Regions from separate parts of the Homo sapiens genome. Here all the other regions are linked to region 2. The links come from fine-mapping of genetic effects on gene expression. A gene starts in region 2. Each other region holds a variant in brackets. All regions are shown on one strand. Distances are between the middles of the regions. Region 1 has its middle 44 kb from the start of MMP2-AS1. Region 2 holds the start of MMP2-AS1 (MMP2 antisense RNA 1). Region 3 overlaps MMP2-AS1 (MMP2 antisense RNA 1). Region 4 overlaps MMP2-AS1 (MMP2 antisense RNA 1).

Region 1 (4,000 bases), 44 kb before region 2:
CAGCACTCCAAGCAAGCCCCTTGCTCCTTGTCCCCTCCAAATTCAGTCTGATGTGATTCAGTGTGACACAAAGGAAAGTGAATCTATCTTCAGCAAATGTGGCCTTTAATGGTAGCAAAGTGCTTTGAAGATGAAAAGTTCTCTGCAAGTGCTAAGCATTATTATTCTGTATCAGATGTCAGTATGCACTTAAAAAAAGATTCAATTAAAGTGCCTTGCCATTGTTTTATGATACAAGCATCAGACATTTCCAAAAAGGTCAAGTCATGACAGGAATATTTAACTCCTAGAAGGAGTAGAAAGTAATTGGAGTGAGCTGGAGGATGATCCAGGACGGAACGATAGGGTGTTCACTTAGCAGTAGGATTTGTGGGCAAGGGTGACCACAAGAGAACAATGGAGTTAGCGTGCTTATTTAAAGCACCCAAGAGTGTAGACCCTTTGTGGGGGACTGGTTGAAAGGTGCAGAGGCCCCCGTGTCTGTGTATGAACAGGTGAGACTGAGACAACCCACTGTGGAAACAAAGAAGCATGGATGAAGGCAGACAGCCTCCCACTCCAACACACACACATATGCACATGCACACACACACACACACACACACATACCCTTGGTTGCTGATGTTTCATATGCACCAGTATCTCAGATAAAAGAGTCTAGAGCTGGGCTGGAAGATAGCAAGCTATCCAAGTCAGCCCCATCACCCTCATTTTATGTTTGTTATTGAACTTTTGTAGTCATTCGGTGCTGGACATGTCTACTACAAAAGAGGAAGAAGATGAGGAGGAAAAGGACAATATGGAGAAGGGAGAGAAGGCATGCTGGGTACTATCTGGTGGCTGGGATAGGGACAACAGGCAAATGTCCTGAGGTGTCATGTAAGTAATCCAGCCCTAGGCTTTCACCATTAGAGGGTGTCGGGGGAAAACTTGCAATTTCAGTCATGCTACTACTTAGACACACAAAGGAAACGTAGCTCTTGTATTTTCTGTAAGTGATCTTACCATCTACACATGCCTCTTGCCAGTGGCAGTGTGTGTTGGGTGATGGGTTCAGAAGTGGATATTTTAAGCTTGTTCATTAAAGATGACTCAGTTTCTTCAGTTGGAACCATCTCCTCCTAGTTAAAATTGTCCTTTGCAGTCCTTGTGTTTATGACAGTGAGAGAGGAGACCTCTCATCCACACTGTGCCTTCTAACTGCTCCCTGGAGCCTGCTGGAGAGTGGTTGCTCCACTTTGCTCCCAAGGTTTACCCTACCTGGATATTCCAGGTGATGCTCTTGCTCACATGGAGACTGTGGCCTTGGCATGTGTTCCCTAGGTGGGCAGTCAGAACACCTGTGGCACGTTGCCTGCTTCCCCTACAAATTTGTGTCTTTCATTTTCTTCTCCCCTGCTGCCAGGCCAGGAAGTGTCTTCCCACCTCCTCTTCTCATCTGGCTTGGGCTTCTCCTACCCCATATCATATTCCTTCTCAAGGTGGCATTCACCCTTCATTCACCCTTCATTGGAGCAATAATGGTGGAATGACTGTAGGGAACATGATTTATAGAATGAAAACCACAAGTATTTAATATCTTTAAAATATTTTCTCCATTACAAGAGGTGCATTCCTTTAGCCTAAGGTTTATTTTGTCTCATAAAATGCAGATATGCTTAGGAGATGTAAAGCAAAAGGTGTTCTTTCTAAAACACCGTTGGATGATTTAAGTTGGTTGGTGGCTGCATCAACCCTAAGACTGCACAACCCAGGCCCATTCATTCATTCCCTAACCATTCATAAACAATCATTCATTGCATTCACCTATATGCCAGCATGGTCCTAGGCACCAGAGATCATAAACTACTGAGAGGGAGAGAAAATGATAAGAATAAGTAATTAACGACTGCTGTGAAAAGTGCCGCACTGGAAAAGCCAGGATGCTCTGAGAATGAATGACACAACTAAAGGGATCAGGGAAGCTACCTGATCAGGTGACAAGTGGCAGGCAAAG[A/G]CAAAAAGGAGTTAACTGAGAGAAGAGCTATGGAGGTGCAGTGTGCTGGAGAGAAGAGGTTTCACAGCCAACAGGGCAGCATGTGCACTGGCCTTGAAGTAGAAAGGAGCTCCGAGGGTCCTTTTCAAGGTGACCTCTAAAAGGGAATGGAGGGAGGATCCTGGAGGAGAGAGGAAGGGAAGGGCACAGGGAAAGAAGGAGTTGAACCAGGCCAGGGCGATGGCAATCAAAAGTCACCTTGAGAAATTGATGAGTAAAATCACGAGCCACTTTTGCAAAGCTCATTGTAGAAACCCCACAGATATTTAAGCCTCATGCTCACCATTTCCAAATAGAATTTTTATCTCATGCTGCTTCCACCAATTCCACTTGTTTTCCATGTTCTCTCCTGACTTTCTGGAGGAGGACTGGCTTGAAGGAACCCTCACCTCTGCAGGGATCTAGCGCCTGCTGTGTGAACCAGTTGCAGGGCGAGATGCAGGACAGGGAACTAGCCATGGTCCTTACCTTCCAGGAGCCCTGTTCTGGCAGATCACAGCAATGGGAACTGTCAAGGCTTCAACCCTCCTGCCAATATCCTGGTCACCCTTCTTCTGGGGACACAAATCCCAAACTTCAGAGGCTTTTTTGTGCTCCTTCTTCCTTAATCCCCATGGCTAATCTGCTACCAAGTTCTCCAAGCCTACCTGCAAAATATTCTAGGGTTTATCTACTTCTCTTCAGCCTCCTTGTTTCAACTCTTATCAAAGTAACTCTTCAACTTGTAATTCAAAGTAATTCTTCAACTTGGTAACTGTAATCACTTCTTCACTGGTGACCTCAAATTCACTCCGATTCCCCCTTCATGAGGGCAGCCAGAGTGATTTCTTCCAATAGCAAATGTGATTATGCCATTCTCTACTCACTTCTGAGATTTCCTTGCTCTTAGGAGAAGGAAAAGATGGTCTTGGCCCCAGCCCACAAGGCATTCGTTGTAAGATCCAGCCATTCATTGTGAGATCCAGCCATTCATTGCCCACCACTCCAGCCCTCATGCTCCCACCAGGCTTGGCCTCGCTCTCCACCTTCTCACCACACTGGCCTTTGCAGAGCTCCTTGAAGGGGCTGAGCTCCCACCTGCCTAACACCCAGACCTGCACTCCACCGTCCCTTCCTCAGGGCAAAGTCCCAGAATGCCAGACCACATCAGTTCTCCCTATCATCCCCCCATCATCCTTCCAAGGAGTGGTCTTATTTTTATGTGTTTATTTGATTAACGGCTAACTAATCCTACTTGATTTAGAGCTCTTTGAGAGCAAAGGTGATTCTCATCTCTGTGCATGTCTATGGCACAGGGATGAGAACACTGTCTGGCACAGAGTGGCTGCTGCAATGAATATAAGTTGAATAAAAGAACAAATGACTGCAATGGAAATGAGTGAAGAATCTGTCCACCTTCCCAGCTTTCTTGTACAGGAAGACTTTACAATGACCTGAAAGGCCCGACATGGTATACACCCCTTCCCCAAGTCCCCCTTTCTCTGGCGTCTGATCGACTTCTCTCTCTAGCACACTTGACTCTGGCTTCACTGGTGTTCTCGCTCTTCTGCAGCAGGCCAAATATGTTCCAGCCTCAGGGCCCTTGCACTTGCTGCTTCTGGTGCCAGGAATTCTCTTCTTCCAAATATCCATCCACATGACTGACTCTCTCCCCTCCTTCAGGACTCTGTTCATATCATTCTTCCCAGTGAGGTCTTCTCTGATCTCCCTACATAAATCCATCATTTTCAAAACCCCTACCCGATTTATTTTTCCTGATAGTCCTTATCACCTTGGGCATATTACCTTATTTATATGTGTATCATCTATCTCCCTCCACCACCATGAGAATATGAGCTCCTTAAATGCAAGAATTTTGCTTGTTTTATACTCTGCTGCATCCTCAATCCTCATTACAGTTCCTGGCATAGTAAACCCTCAATATATGTCAGTGGACAGGTGAATTAATAAATGAATCTTGAGCCT
Region 2 (4,000 bases):
AGAGACCGCAGGGAGAAAGAGCTGAGTGCAGCCTGAGCCCGTGATTTTCAAGCCCCGCCGCTGGCCTCCTAGGGTTCTTGTAATCATACTCCGACTCCCTTCTCCTTAGTTAGTCTAAGGGGGCTTCTGTTTCTTGCTCCCAACTGCTGCCTCACTAAGATAGACTCATTTTCAGATCTCTCTACGGATTGTAGCCTTTCCTGCAATTCCTGCCTGGATGGCTGCTCCTCCAGGCCTGGACTGGATGGAAGGTTCCAAGCGAGAACCTGCAGCATTTCTGCTTCTGCGGCATCATCCACCTCTGAGAACCACTCCAGAGGACAAGCTGAGGAGCCTTCCAAGAGCTCCATGTGTCTGTAAATGCCTTCAAAACCTGGTCTCAGTGCATCCTTTTTGCACCCACAGCCAGATAGCTGACCACACAACATCAGGATAGAGTGGTCACCACCCATTTTCTGTCATGGGAAAGGAAATTGCCCGGGAAAGGCCTTGCCCAGTGCAGACATGGCAGGCAATGCTGAGAGCTACAAAATCCTTCTAGAAGCTGTTGTCTTTCAGTTATTAAGACTATAAGGGCTGGGCATGGTGGCTCACACCTGTAATCCCAGCACTTTGGGAGGCTGAGGTGGGTGGATCACAAGGTCAGGAGTTTGAGACCAGCCTGGCCAACATGGCAAAACCCTGTCTCTGCTAAAAATACAAAAAAAAAAAAAATGCGCATGCCTGTAATCCCAGTTACTTGGGAGACTGAGGCAGGAGAATCGCTTGAACCTGGGAGGTGGAGGTTGCAGTGAGCCGAGATCACGCCACTGCACTCCAGACTGGATGACAAAGCAAGACTCCATCACGGAAAAAAAAAAAAAAAAAAAGAAGGCAGGCTGCCTAGCTTAGCTTTGCCATGACTAATCTACTTACCAGCTAAGCAACATTTGTGCAAGCTATTTCACCTCTGTGTGCCTCAGTTTCTTCATCTATAAAATAGAGATAATCATTTTACACCCCTCAATAAATGTCTTTTGAATCAATTAATGAATACTTGTAAAACACCTGGCATATTGTAAGCCCTTGTTAAATGTAAACTTTAAATGTTAAATGGTTTCTTTCTTTCTTTCTTTCTTTCTTTCTTTCTTTCTTTCTTTCTTTCTTTCTTTTCCTGTTTCTGTTCTCTCTCTCTCTCTTTCCCTCTTTCTCTCTTTCTCTCTTGGAAGGTCTCACTCTGTTGCCCAGGCTGGAGAGCAGTAGTGCAATCATGGCTCACTGCCTACAACCCCACCGTAAGTCCCTCTGGGATTCCATGATAGAGGTACTTATTCCAATTAGGGTCAAGCTGGAGGAAGAGGCGGCTGTGGCCTAGCTGTCAATTCCTCAGGGCTGGTCATTGGGGAGGAAGGGCAGGAACCAGCTGAGTTCACTGAGAGTTGGAACAGGAGACGCAGAAAGGTACAGATTTGGAAACTGACCTGGGTATCACAGTTAGGGCTCCAGGGCACTCCAGCCTGCGGTGGGAGTTTGTAGGTGTCTAAGCTGTGGCTGGGAGGGCAGTGGAAGAAAGTCAAGCTGTGCCAATTTTCCTATTTGAAGAGAAAGGGAGCAGGGGAACCAGAGTTCTAGGTGACACCATCGGGAAGACAAGCTGTGTCCTCAGCCCGGCCTGGGGGGAGGACTGGGTTGCAACTTACAGGAAAGAGGATTGACTGGATTCTTAGAAAAACAAGAGCCAAGGCTTGTTGCTGTGCAGAGGGATTGGGGTCACCAGCTGGCTGTTGTTACCGTGACTGATTCCTGATGCTTCGGAATTCAAGGGCAGGAGGCACTTGGGGCACTGGCTGAACCTTGGCTCCCTGACCCCTCCTCAGTCCCCTTCCTGGGCTCCACAACATATAAGATGAACGTTCTGATTGTCTATTTCTCCTCCCTTCTCGTTTTACTCTTCATTTGGTGGAGTGTATGGTAGGGATAAAATCTTAGAGATGTTTATCTGAGCCATAGAGAGACCTTATTGGGGGTGCATGGGAAATACACAAGTAATCCCAAGCTCACCTTGCCTGGGTGCCTGCGGAGGGCAATTGTGCATTAGCGGTAGAGTGTGGTGGGGACCTGGGCCTGGGTGGGCAGGGGAGAGCTTCTGGACAGGGGCTGGTGGATTAAGGTCATGCCCATAGGTGGGAAGCCACCCACACAGAATCACAGCATCTCAGAAGGGCAGTGCCAGAAAAATCCCCAGGGACCTCATTTTCCTTGGAACACAACCCAATTCCTTGGCTTGGCCAACCAGGCCTAGCGCATCTGGGCCCAACTTCATCTGCCTTCATTCCTCCACTGCATCAGTAGGGTCATTTGGGTGTAGGCCACAGAAGTAAACTCTGGCAACATAAGCGAAGGGGGATTTGTTAGAATAGGATAAGGGAGCCAGGCAACTGGAGCAGACATCAAGGTGGGAACACCAGGCCTCAGGGTCCCGCAGTTGCTGTGCCTGGGCTGCCATTGTTCCATCTGTATCTATGTCACGCGAGGTCATATGAGTGGGCCGGGCACGGTGGCTCACGTCTGTCATCCCAGCACTTTCAGGTGGATCACCTGAGGTCAGGAGTTCGAGACCAGCCTGGCCAACATGGTGAAACCCTGTCTCTACCAAAAATATAAAAATTTGCCAAGCCTGGTGGTGGGCATCTGTAATCCCAGCTACTCAGGAGGCTGAGGCAAGCTAATTGCTTCAACCCAGGAGGCAGAGGTTGCAGTGAGTCGAGGTCATGCCATTGCACTCCAGCCTGGGTGACAAGAGTGAAACTCTGTCTCAAAAAAAAAAAAAAAAAAAAAAAACCATATGAGTGTCCCATTGGCTCAGCCTAGATTACAGCCCCACCCTGGCAGGGTAGTAGGAGGAAGGCTTAGAACTGTCTTGGCTTCTGAAGAGGGCAGGACAGTAACCCAATCCACCTTCCCAGAAACACTGTCCTCAGTGGGGAGGAGGGACAACTCCCAAGGAGATGGGGACACATGCTCGCCAACCAAACCCACAAAAGCTCATTGTGCCTGTCGCTCTGCTCCAGCCACAGTGGCCTTCTTCTGTTCTTCAAATACAAAAAAGCTTGTTCCCACCCCAGGGCCTTTGCACTTGCCATCTGCTCTACCTGGAACACTCTTCCCCTTGTTCTGCATGTGACTGCTTCATTTTCCTCCTTCAGGACTCACACCTAACAAGGGCCTCCAAGAGGCCCTCCCTGACGACCCATTCTCAAGTTGCCCTCATCAGATAATCTTGACCTCATCCCTCCCAGGTCTCCTAGCCATCTAAAATTACCTTGTGTATGAGTCTGTTTGCTCTGTATTGCCTGTCTCCCCACTGGAATGCAAACGCCACAAGAGCAATGACTGCGGTTAATTGCTGCTATATATCCAGCACTCAGCACAGGGCTTAATAAGCATTTACCAGGCAAATAAACATATAGAGACAGAGAGCCCCAGAGGGACGGTGCTTTGGCCGAGGATGCCCAGAGAAAATACTGATGTCATTGAGGGTGCAGAAGCCAAATCTTGCTTGCTCCGGGGGCACTGGATGGCACCAGCCTAAGAGTGTGGGCACCAGAGCAGATTGCCTGGGTCAACACTCACTCTCTGTGTAACCTTGAGTGAGTTTCTTAACTTCTCTGTGCCTTGGTATCCTCATGCATAAAGAGATGACCATAATAATAATGCATTCTCAGGGGCTGTGGCAAGGATCACATGAACTAATACATGTAAAGTACTTAGAACAGGGCCTAACAATATTGTAACACTGTCAACAAGTGCAAGCTATTATGATTGGAAGACTTCCATGTCCTTATTTCTGATTGACAGGTCACTGCCCAGCCCCACCCTCGACCCAACCAGGATGAAGAATGGGCAAGCCAGATAGCTACAGTAATCGACAGACAGACAAACAAGAGCATCGTATGACCCAGGGGCCAACAAGTCCCACCCCAGTGACACCATCTCACTTTTGCAGAGCTCTTGCTCGCAA
Region 3 (8,327 bases), 36 kb before region 2:
GCCGTTCCTTGAAAATATCAAAGTAACTTGGACTTGGTGCCTGCCTGGACTTATACTTGTCGGTGTTGTCTTCTCTGCCATTAGTGACAGAAAGTCAGAAGGTGCAGGGCTCTACTGTAGACACAGAATAATATGAGCATGCTCTGTAATATGAGCATGCTCTGTGTTCAGGTTTATTCCCCCAGCCTGACAATTACTCTCAACTCTCCAGACCTGTATTTCCACGTGCCCACTCAACAGCTTGGCTTGAATGGCCAATAGACATCTCTGACCCAACGTGGCCAATCTGCAGTCTTGACACTTCTTCCTTCTTCCAATAAATGGCACTGCCCCTCTTCTAGCTGATCCAGCCAAAAGCTCTAGCACTAGCTCTTTGAGGTTGAGTTCTTCCAGAAGCAGACCCTGGGCCAGGCTTTGAGTGTGAATAGTCTGTTTGGAAAATGCTCTCAGGAAGTAGTGAGAGGAAGTGGGAAAGCGAGATGGAAAAGAAATGCACCCCATGAAGGGTGTGTTGTCAAGCAAGTTATCGATATGAACTACTGGAGCTTCATCCTGCTGGGGACTTTAGGAGCCAGGGCAGAGCACAAGCCTCAGAGTTACGTCCCTCCCCTGTGGGGTGACGGAACTGGGCTGCATATACACCATCTCCCATCAGTCATCGGTTGAGGCTGCCCCTGAGGGATCCTCTGGCCTGCTTTGGACACACGGGCAGAGTGGGCTCCAGTGGTCAGAGGAAGCCCTTAGGCAATAAAATTAATAAATAAAATAAATAAAATAAAATAAAATAAAAATGGACCTCAGGCTGGCCATTAGAAGCGGGGCCTCTAACATGGTGAAGAGAGGACCTATGGATGTGGCACAACAGTGGCTGCTGTAGAATCCCTGATTGCCACCACTCCCTCCCCTACCACACAGTCACTCCATTGGCAAAACCTGTGGGCTCTGCTTGCAAAATAGATTCCATATCTGACCACTTTTCACCACTAATTGCAGAAGAATCTGGTGTAAGTGCCCATCAGTTCTCGCCTGGACTATTGCTGGAGCACCCTAACTGGTCTCCCTGCCTTCCTCCGTTTTCCCCTATTATCCTTCTGTACTCAGAAGTCAAAAGGATCCTTTTATCCATGATTGTGTTATTGCCTGTTTGAAAGCTGCCCTTGCTCCCCTCTTGGTTGGCACCAACCCGCAGTCCTGGGCTTGGCCTGCAGGTCCTGCCAACTCAGCTCCTGCTTCATTCTCTGATGCCATCTTCTATCACACTCTTCCTTGTTTACCCTGCTCCACCTGCGCTGGCTAATCTTCAAAAGTGCCAAGCACACCCCCACCCTGAGGCCTGTGCAGGGGCTGCTCCCCTACCTGGCCTGAGCCTCCCTGACATCCCCATGGCCCCTTTCTCACTGCAGCTTTCTCAGTTCCCCCAAGGGGAAGACCACCAGCCACTCCCACTCTCTTGCCCACGTCATTATTTTTCAGAATGCTGGTTTCCTAAGGAATCCCCCAGTCACTGCCCTTCCTTCTGTACCCTAGGTCTTTAAGGAGACCAAAATAAGACAAGGAATGAGGACAGGACAGAGCTGCTCACATTCAGTTTATTCCTCCTAGAATCCTTATCAATCAGCCAAGTCACCTCCCTTGGGGCAGAGCAAGGTAAGGGGAATAGAGACATGGAGATCCTCCGGATGCCCCTGTGCATGGAGGAGGGGTCAGGAGTGGTGAAATCCTCAATGCTTCTCACACCTGTCATCATATTATGATAATCTATTGCATGGATGCATCCCTCAGGTCCCTTTTACTTATTCTGTGTGCTCACCCCCAGCCTCTACACACATTTTCCCCTACTCCTCCTTCTCTTTCTCCTTCTCCTTCTCCTTTTTTGGGACAGAGTTTCTCTCTTGTTGCCCAGGCTGGAGTGCAGTGGAATGATCTCAGTTCGCTACAACCTCTGCCTTCCGGGTTCAAGTTATTCTCCTGCCTCAGCCTCCCAAGTAGCTGGGATTATAGGCATGCACCACAACACCTGGTTAATTTTTATATTTTTAGTAGAGATGGAGTTTCACTATGTTGGCCAGGCTGGTCTTGAATTCCTGACCTCAGGTGATCCACCACCCTCGGCCTCCCAAAATGCTGGGTTACAGCCGTGAGCCACCACACCTGGCCCTACGTATTTTACTTCTAAAAGGTTCACACCTGGAACTTCCTTCCTGTGCTGGCCCATGAACCTCTGCAGCTGCTTTGTCCCCATGGCATGCAGAGAGGAGAAAAAGTACCCAAAATTTACTCCCCCTCACCCCTCCAGCCTGTAGCCAATGGATGTGGGAGTATAAAAGCCTGACACCCCTGCTTCAAAGACAGACAGACCCTGAGATGTAATTTATACCCCAGAGCTCTCCACAGGATCAGGCAGAGGTTGGGACTTTGGGAAGCTGCACCTTTGCTGGGCTTCTTCCCCCTCTCTTGCCCTGTTTCCCTATGCCCTTATGGATATCTCCTGGGAGCTCTTTCTTAATAAATTACCTGCACTTCAACCCTTGTCTCAGCATCTTCTTCTGGGAACATAAGACTGAAGGCACTCGCTGTTTGTTGTTTATTTCATTTCCTTACTAGAACATAAGCTCCCAAGGGCAGGAGCTTTTCTGTTTTGTTCAGTTTTGTATTTTCAGCAACAAGAACAGTGCCTCGTATACAGAAGGAGCTCAATAAATACGTATTAAGTGGATGCGTGAATTTGTGAATATATGTCAATTGACAGAAATATACCAGGACCACTTCTAAAGAAGGCTTCCCCTGTTCTGTTTTATGGTCTGCTATGTCCCTCATGACTGAAATCATTCGCAGCACAAAGTAGATGTTCAATGAATATCTATTGATCAACTCCCATAGCCCCTGTCTGCTCTATTTTAGCAACTGTTCTAGGAAAACTGCTAATATATCTGGCCTCTGCCTGGCTTCTCTCCACCTCCCTCTCAGGCCTTTGCACAGAGCAGGTCCTCAGCCTGAGAGGACTGCATTACAGTTTCAGGGCCTACTGGGTGGAGGGACTGCTAGGGCTTAAGGAACAGGAGCAATAGACCCTACTAAGATGGGTGAGGCCTCTGGAAGGCTGTGACAGCCTAAGCTGTTAGGGAGAAGCTTCTGGGCACAACTGGGTCATTGGAAGCCACTAGGAGAATTTGAGGTCGCCTGGGTGGGACAGGGAGGGGTAAACTTCTGGGACAACATTAGATCCAGAGAATGGGGAGCCTCTGGAGGAGGGCAGAACAGAGGGGGAAAGGCAATGCTACTAGTGAGTGTTAGGGCCCACTGGGCAGGGGGATGTTTGCAGGGGAATAGTTGGGCATCCTGGTAAGCAGAAGCCCATGGGGACTGATGGGCCAATGGGGAGGGGAAAATTATAGGGAAATCTTGGGGCTTTGTTTACAGTGGAGGCTTCTGAGGGAAGTGCTAAGTTTCAAAGGTATTAAGGTCAGAAAATGTCAGAAAGTAATAAGGGAAAAGAGGAAATTAAACCAAGTCTGCTCTCTCTCTCTCTCTCTCTCTCTCTCTCTCTCTCTCTCTCCCCCTCTGTCTCTGTCTCTCTTTCTCTCTCTATTGTTCTCCCTCTTACCTTTCTCTGATATTTTTTCCTCTTTGGTGTTGACAAATCACTGTCAGTAAGTGACATTCTCCCTTAAGAAACCTATCTGACACAGAGCACAAGGCGTGATGGTTGTTCATGGATCAGCCAGATTGAATTAAGGTTCAATTTCAGGTTAGAATCAGCTGGAAGAGATGAGACCCCCAAAATAGCAGTGGCTTCAGCAAAACAGAGCTTTATTTCTCCCTGGCGGGATCTTCAGGCTGGTGGCCCAGGTTTGGAGCAGCAATCCTCAGGTGCAGGGACCCTGTGCCTTCTGCCTTGCCACTCAGCATCATCACTGCATTTCTCAAGGTGGCTGCTGGGGTGCCAGCCTTTATGGGCAGTTCCAGCCTGCAGGAAGGAGGAAAGTGGAAAGAAAGGTGCATCCGCCTAGTAAGGGTGCTCTCCAGAAGTTGCACACACCACTTCCACATATGCCCATTGACTAGAATACGGTTAAGTCACATGATCACATTTAACTGCCAAAAAACCTGGGGCAATGTAGTGTTTATTCCAGGCAGCCAAGGATCCACTTAAAAGCTAAGGGTGTTTCTTATGAAGGAAGAACTGAAAATACATATTAAGGGACAACAAGCACATAGATTGAGGGAGCCAACCAGGAACATCAGGAGCCTCAGAGAGTCCCTCGAGAGACGAGCTCACATGGTGTGCTGGTATTTATTGCTACATAACAGCTTACCCCTAAATTTGGCAGCCTGAAACAGCAAACATGTTATCTCGTGCAATTTCTGAGGTCAGGGGTCTAGAAGCAGCAGAGCTGGGTGGTGCTTGCTCTCTAGAAAGGCTGCAGTCAAGCTGTCTGCTGAAGCTGAAGTCATCTTAAGCTCAATTGGGGCTAGAAAATCCACTTCCAAACTGACCTCACAGGGTTGTTGCTGGAGGCTTCAGTTCGTTGTCTTGTGGGCCTCTCCATTGGGCTGCTCACAACATAGTAGTTTGCTTTCCTCAGAGCAAGAGATCCAAGGAAGAGAAGAAGGAAAAGAGGAGAGAGAGAGAGAGAGAGAGAGAGAGAGAGAGAGAGAGAGAGAAAGTCATCTAAAATGGAAGCCACAGTCTTTTCTAACCCTTCTGAGAAGAGACACGTCCTCTCATCTGCTGTTTTCTTTTTGGCCACAGAGCCCAATCCTGGCACAATGTGGAGGAGGATATGAATCCCAGGAGGCAGGGATGACTGCAGGCATCTTGGAGGCTGACTACCAACCATGG[A/G]TAGGTAAATGAGTGCCAGGAGTTAGGAGATCACACCTCGGTAGAGAGAGTTCCTTGAGCCAGGAAGACTATGCACAGGCTCAGGAAGGCTGGCTGGGCCTAAACAGAAGTGGGTCAAAGGTTAAGGAGTATGTCTCAGTCTATTTGGGCTGCCATAGCAAAATGCCATAGACTGGGTAACTCATAAATAGCAGAAACTGATTCCTCACAGTTCTGGAGGCTGGGAAGTCCAAGATCAAGTTACTGGCAGATTGGGTGTCTGGTGGGGGTCCATTCCTCATAGATGGCATCTTCTTGCTGAGTACTCAACATGACAGAAGGGGTGAACAAGCTCCCTGAGGTCTCTTTTATATGGGTACTAATCCCATCCATAAAGGCTCTGCCTTCAAGACCTCGTCACCTCCCAAAGGCCTCACCTCCTCATTTCATCACACTGGGGATGAGGTTTCAACCACTAATTTTTGGTGGGAGGAGACAAATATTTAGACCTTAGCAAAGTACAACAAAATGTTCCTGTGGTTGCTTTCTGATATTCACCCAATCACCCTGAAGGGACAAACCTTTCTACCACTTCAAAGAGGGAGACAATCTTACTAGCATGTAATAATCAGCACTGTTACCCACAGCTCAAGCCCTCACCCTAGAAACAAAGCCAAGACCACTAAGTGGGTAGGTGTCCTGGCTAAGTGTGGACACAGGGCACAATCAGAGATGTGAACACACAAAGAGCTTCACCAGCTTCTCACAGACCCTGCTTGCCTTTCGAAGTGATGAATACACATGGCCTGGTCATTCCAGAGACTAATAAGACCCCTCTGGCCCATTACCTGAAACTGGGGACCCAATACCATGCAGATGGACTGAGTCATTACAAAGGCAATTAAATGCCCAACTCCATAGCCAGGTGCCAACATGTAGGCTTTTGTGCATGGATAACTTAGTTCTTTCAGGAGGGGAAGAATCTTTAGTCTTATTTTCTCTCAAGCCTGGGGTTAATTGGGAAGCCAGCTTCGGTGACTAGTACACAGAGGCTAATTTGTACAACCATTGCTCACAAGTGGGTGGGGGGGATGACGGCAAAAAAAAATAAAAATACAACATTGCTGGAGACAGTCTGCCATTGAATTGGATCTTAATATTCTAGTCCATGAACCAGCGGTTGCACTAGAGCTTGGTTAAAAAAAAAAAAAAAGCAGGAAAAACCCACACACATTCTTTCAATTTCTAAAGGGAAATTTGACTCGGGCTGTAGAACAAAGGACGAAGAAATAGAAGTAAAAGAAAATCAAAGAAAAAGTTATTTGGATTCAAGGGGATCAGATGTTTCATTTATTGCAGGTTGGAGACCTTCAATCAGCCAAATGAAAGGAACATTTGTATTAAAATACCTATGAGGCAGAGAGAAAGCCTTGATCGGGTGCAGCAGAGTTAAGTTACAGCAATCGTGCTGAGAGATATGAACCCACCTTCGAGGTTATCTGTTCCCAATATTGAAGGTTTTCTGTGTTACAAACCTGAGATGAAAGGTAGTTGTTTTGACGTCTGGGTCTGGAAGGCAGACGCTGAAATTAGCAGCATTCTTGATGTGTGTGCAGCAGGAACATGGAGCCCGGGATGGGGTGAAAATGTAGCTGCTTTATTAAAAGGAAACGATGTTAATGCAACACTAAGTGCCCAAGTCACCCATGAGGGTAGGGTGTAGATGGGGATTACAAAAACACCTTCTGAGAAGGGGCAGAGAAGGAGCACTGCACTAGGGGTCTGGGACCAAAGGTATAGCCCCTCCTCTGACCCTGGGTTGGTAGCTCCAAAATAGCTGGGACTTAGCCTGTCTAGTTCACAGTGCCAGGCATATAGGAGGTGTTTGATATATGTCAAACAAATGCATGAATGAATAAATGAATATGAACTTGGGCCTCTTTGGACCTAAGTCTTACAAAATAAGGAGCTGGGACTAACTATGGATTTCTCCAGTGGGATGAATACCACTGATGGTTGGGCAGCACATGGATGGGTTTGGGTGACATGCAAAGACATGGTATTAAACAGTACTAACTCAGAGAGAGAAAGGTATCACTTCTGGACTCTTTCTAGCCTCTGACTCCCTCTAAGAGAAAGTCTCAATCCAATGCTAACATCTCTTTAACACCTCTGCAATGTTTTCAACCCTCTCTTCATAATGATAAGAGGGGAAGGCCCAGGCTCACATCCTCAGCAGGCATCAGCATCCAACTCCATTTCATAACTTGATTTATTTCCTTTGTACTTAATTTCACAGTTGCCTTTCTATGTATGGCAAGTGATAGTTTTTCCTTGGCAGAACTGATCTTTTTAGGGTTTCTTTGTCAGACAGATGTTTCTAAGTAAGCACGAATTGATGTAAAGCCACCATTAAGGAAATAACAGCTCAAGTGGGATGCAGACAAGGAAAATATCATGATGATGAGAGATGGTTTGGAAAAAAAAAAAAAGAAATTGTCCCAGCTGACCTTGAAGGTCTCTTCTGGAAACACTGAGCATCTGAAGTCTAGGACTCCACTCTTCTGGTTTATGTAGAGCAAATCCAGCAGTCTCTAGCAAAGAGGTGACTGCAATCCGAACCTTTGGAAGATGGGCCTATTCATGTATCCATTTATTCATTCTCTCAATAAGTATTTATCAAGAGCATATTATATGTGCACTGCTGTTCCAGGCACTGGGATAGTAGTGAAAGAAAAATAGGGAAAAAGTCTCTGCCCTCATGGAGTTTCTGTTTTAGTGGTTTGAGGCAAGACAGGGACCAGGGCAGGTAAATGAGGCACTGAGGGTGTGTAATGTAAGGAGGCACCTGGTCTCAGGACTGCGCATGACCTTGACCTGACTTGAGACGAGTTTCCCATCCTGACCGTAACCTGGCATAGTTGTCATCATTCTGGGGGCCACAAATCCTGTCCCTGGAGGGTCTGGTGTAATTGCTCTTTGGTGGGTCCCCAGACTAGTATCTGGGGAGAGCAACAAAGATTATTCCCATCCACTTCCAGGATTGAGAACCACTGACATGGACCAAGAAACCTTCAAATTTTTTGATTTGGCACTTTTCAAAGGCATCAACCTTCTTAGTCACTAAGTCGATCTTCACTTACCAAATAAATTAACTAATGAGTGAGTTGGTATGTTGTCACTCACCATAATGACAAAAATACTCCTGTCCTCTGCCTCCTTACCAGGTGTCAGGTAATATCATTCACTTTTTTTTTTTTAAATGAAGTCTCGTTCTGTCTCCCATGCTGGAGAACAGTGGCCAGATCTCGGCTCAATGCAACCTCCGCCTCCCAGGTTCAAGTGATGCTCATGTCTCAGCCTTCCAATAGCTGGGATTACAGGTGCGCACCACCACGCCTGGCTAATTTTTGTATTTTTAATAGAGATGGGGTTTCGCCATGTTGGCCAGGCTGGTCTCAAACTCCTGACCTCAAGTGATCCACCTGCCTCAGCCTCCCAAAGT
Region 4 (4,000 bases), 22 kb before region 2:
AAATAACAGTTATCTAAATAATTATTTAAATTAATATAGTAATATGTGGGCTTTTATTAACCAAGATATAATAAGATATAGAGGTGGGTCTACTCATCACTATAATTTCCAGAGAGTAGTGAGTCTGTTTCAAGATACTCTGTAGCAACTATAATGTGATATGAAAATATCTGTGATATCTATTAATGACGAAGTCACAAAAGTCCCATGTAGTGCTGATACAATTTTAGTTGTTGCCTACATTCAGAATTGAAGGAAATGCTAACTGTCAGTTAGAAGTTAGCAAAAATTTAAAAATACATTTTTTTTTCCCATTCAAGCTAAGAATTCCATGGAATTCTTAGAAGTCTTCCATTTCATGGAACCCAGGTTAAGAATCTTCACCCCATGAAAGGAATATTTTTATTCTTCATAAGTTTATTTCATTCTTGGTCCAGAGGTGAGGCAAAGATCAGCTCCTCTCAGCTTCTACTTGGCCCCAGAAACCAACTCTTTGGCATAGACAGTAAGGCTGGGTTTTGGACACGAAACATTTTTCATTAACCCCCACCCACCCCGCCCAGGTATTATGTTTGAAAAGCAGTCTGTGACAGGGAGTGGTTAAAACAGAAGACAAGTTTGTTTCACTCCAAAATCTCTTCCATTTGGTCTCATGGTTCATTAGTATTTGTTGTGCAACACCAAAAAAAAAAAAAAATGCACTCAGATGTAAATGCAGGGACGGCCCAAAACACAGGAGACACTCCACGTGTCTAGACAGCAATGTTCTAACCAACAGAGGAGACACACTGCGCTGTTCATAGTAGTTGCTTAATTTTTCTCATCTGCAAACAGGCTATGGATTGCCAACCTTTAATTAAGAAACAGTTTTCTTTTCAAAAAGAATGTGTTCTAATAAATACCAGCTGAGCTGGGATGGAGGCGCTATAGAAATTACAACTGCAGCTGAAAAACCATGAGACTTGCAGCAGGCTAACCATGAAGACCTTCAGGAAAGGAATAGTTTCCATGTGCTTTGGAGATGAGGACATGCCTCGTGGGCTATGCTCCTTGGCTTCAAAGCCAAGCCACAGCGCCGGTGCTGTGGGTTCTGCCTTCTTGGGCAGAGAGAGGACAGAAAGAGGCAGAAAGACAGTGAGGCAGGGTATTGGCTTAAATGACCTCTGCCTTGACATTCTATGACTTTAAAATCAAAGAGGTACTCAGGGTAAGGTTAGAAGTGTTCTTACTACAGCTGATATCATTGACTTTGCAAAAGGGAGTTCCTAGCAAAGAAAATGTTTCTTCAGATTGAAGTGTCTTGGTATTTGAAATGTCTTAGCATCCCTGTGACCCTCCCTCCACACGTAGTGTTGCCAGATAAAATGCAAGATGTCCAGTTAAATTTGAACATCAGATTAAAAATGAATAATTTTCAGTGTACATATATCCCGTGCAATAAGCTAAAAATATACAAAAGCATTATTTGTTGTTTATCTGAAATTCAAACTTAACTGTGTGTCCTGTATTTTTACTTACTAAATCGGCCAACTCTACTCCCACTCAAACCAGATCTTTCCTCCGATCCACTTTCCTCCAGTTCTTTGTAGAGAAATGCCAGGCCAGCCTGGCACAGACTGAGGTCAACTTAGAGACATGTGTACAGTCAGCATAATGGTTAAGAACACCAACTTTGGAGTCTCAAAGACTTAAAGTAGCCTTCAACTCAAGC[C/T]TGTCGCTTTTTGATGGGTTTATCTTGAGAAGCTTTCATGACCTCCCAGGGCCTCAGCTTTGTCCTTTGCAGAATGGGGAGATTGAAAGTCACGGCTGATGTTCAGCCATATCCAATAGTACAAAATCCATACCAGCAGTTTAAAAATTAGAGCATTTCCCAGGCCAGTTGTCAAATAGCTTCCCAATCTCCCCTTCATTGTGCCAGGCACCCTGGCTCCTCCCCACCTCTTTCCTCATCTAGCAACAAATACCTGGCACAGTCAGGGGTCTCCAGGACCCTGTTCTAGTGTTTAACTCAGTGTTCTTTCTGATTGGCAAGTATCTGTGGCTTATTGATAGTTAAATAAATTGACAACCACTCCTGTTAGGAATACCCACCTCAAAGGTTGTTGTAAGGGGTAGGTGAAATGATGTGAAAGAACTGTGATATAGGGTTTGGCCCAGAGATCTCTCTCTCACACACACACACACACAGAATGAATGAATGAATGAATGAATCCCTGTGCTACTTATAAGGAAGAGCCTTGCCTTTTTTTGCACATGGCAAACCATTCTCTCTCTCTCTCTCTCTCTCTTTAATAAACCTTAAAGATCATTCTACTTCTAGTTTAATTTCTTCCTCTTTACATGGAGGAAAACTGAGATTAGGCATAATTTACTGACTTATCTAAACAAGTCCACTTTTATGCATTGTAGGTTTGAGGGATCGTTGGAAAGATCTTTTGCTCAAAAACATTCCTTTCATCCAACTGCCACAAAGCCTGAAATTTCACCATTAGCATTTTAGCCATCTTTAAAAATTGCACTAACACTTATCAAGATATTTCTCAAAGCCCACTCTCTTTAAGCTAGAAATGACCCAGGGTCATCCTGAGAACCTCAAGCGCTGGGCTGGAGGGTGGTAAAAAAGAGATTCTGAAAGAAGTTGAAAGGAGACCTGGGACGTGCCAAAGACACATGCGTCCAACTTTAAAACTGTGTGACTGGCTGGCTATGCATTAGATTGTCCCACTGGGGCAGTTGTGCATTTGTGCTGTTGCATAATACAGAAGGACAAAAAGCATAAATACTAACTGATCACTTCATTCAAAAGAACTTCCCAAAAGGAAGCCAGACCCCTTTGATGCTGCCTTATGCTTAGGCAAAGCTAAAAGTCGTTTTTATACTGTTGGTCAAGGGTTTTTCAACTGGATGCCTGGAAATGTTTTTCACAGATCTACAAAGCATGGATCATACAACAAAGCCTCAAAATATACAGGGGCAAAAATCTAGCTGGGATTGTATCCATTCATATATACAAGTTGGTTCCACCACTGGGTTAATGCTAACTGCTGGAGTCCAGCATCTCTTGTATTAGATATATCTTTATCCGCTGACAGTTGAATTCGATCCACCTGCACATTATTTTGAGGACAGGTGTTGAGAGCTAACCAGTTGCTGGTATAGGCTAGTCTGTTTCCCCCAGAACACAATATTGTCCTGTGCTGTGTAATGGTGTTTCGGTCAATGACAGGCTGCATATATGACAGTGGTCCCATAAGATTATAACGGAGATGAAAAATTCATATCACCTAGTGACACGGTAGCCATTGTAATACTGTAGTGCAATTACTTTATTTTTTATAAATTTAGCATGGCCTAAGTCTACAGTGTTTATAAAGTCTCTAGTGGTATACAGTAATGTCCTGGGCCTTCACCTTCACTCACCACTCACTCACTGACTCACACAGAACAAATTCCAGTGCTGCAAGCTCCATTCACAGTAAGTGCCCTATACAGGTGTACCATTCTCTACTTTTTATACCATAATTTTACTGGACCTTTTCTATATTTACATATGTAAATGCTTACCACGGTGTTACAATTACCTACAGTATTCAGTGTGATACATGCTATACCGGTTTGTAGCCTAGGAGCAAAAGGCTATTCCATATAGCTTATACCATCTAGGTGTGTGTAAGTACACTGTATGAGGTTGGCACAATGATGAAATAGCCTCTCAGAACACATCCCCATCCGTCACCAACACATGACTGTAAAATTCAACATCCAATCATTTGACTGATTTAGTTTAGAAGATCAGAATCTAAAGAAATTTTTTTTAAACTTCTGGAAAAACAGGGGTTAAAATTCTGGCACTTTTCTTCAAACATCAATATTTGTGACTTATTAATTACCAATGGATGATCACCAAACGAGGAAGGATCTTCCCATCAGAGTCTAATTAGTTTCATTGTCTTTTTTTTTTTCTGGATTCCATTGTATTTCACTCTACCCTTCGGCTGCC

Evidence for each region. PIP is the estimated chance that this variant, and not a neighbour inherited with it, causes the effect.
Region 1: its variant is fine-mapped to the expression of MMP2-AS1 in left ventricle (GTEx, PIP 0.92).
Region 3: its variant is fine-mapped to the expression of MMP2-AS1 in whole blood (INTERVAL, PIP above 0.99). The same link has a PIP of 0.9 or more in atrial appendage.
Region 4: its variant is fine-mapped to the expression of MMP2-AS1 in whole blood (INTERVAL, PIP above 0.99).

What each region holds. Positions count from the first base shown.
Region 1 is chr16:55,416,280-55,420,279 of GRCh38, forward strand. No RefSeq gene overlaps it. Among named protein-coding and RNA genes, the nearest start is that of MMP2-AS1, 44 kb to the right of the region's middle. The variant A/G (reference allele first, on the strand shown) is at 1,997.
Region 2 is chr16:55,460,715-55,464,714 of GRCh38, forward strand. MMP2-AS1 (MMP2 antisense RNA 1) reads right to left here and starts at 1,583. Exons shown (of 7, transcript NR_147198.1): 1 at 1,461-1,583.
Region 3 is chr16:55,423,004-55,431,330 of GRCh38, forward strand. It overlaps MMP2-AS1 (MMP2 antisense RNA 1), which reads right to left. Exons shown (of 7, transcript NR_147198.1): 5 at 6,358-6,477; 6 at 4,498-4,581; 7 at 3,794-3,967. Among named protein-coding and RNA genes, the nearest start is that of MMP2-AS1, 35 kb to the right of the region's middle. The variant A/G (reference allele first, on the strand shown) is at 4,844.
Region 4 is chr16:55,438,701-55,442,700 of GRCh38, forward strand. The region is part of intron 4 of MMP2-AS1 (MMP2 antisense RNA 1); the gene reads right to left. Among named protein-coding and RNA genes, the nearest start is that of MMP2-AS1, 22 kb to the right of the region's middle. The variant C/T (reference allele first, on the strand shown) is at 1,712.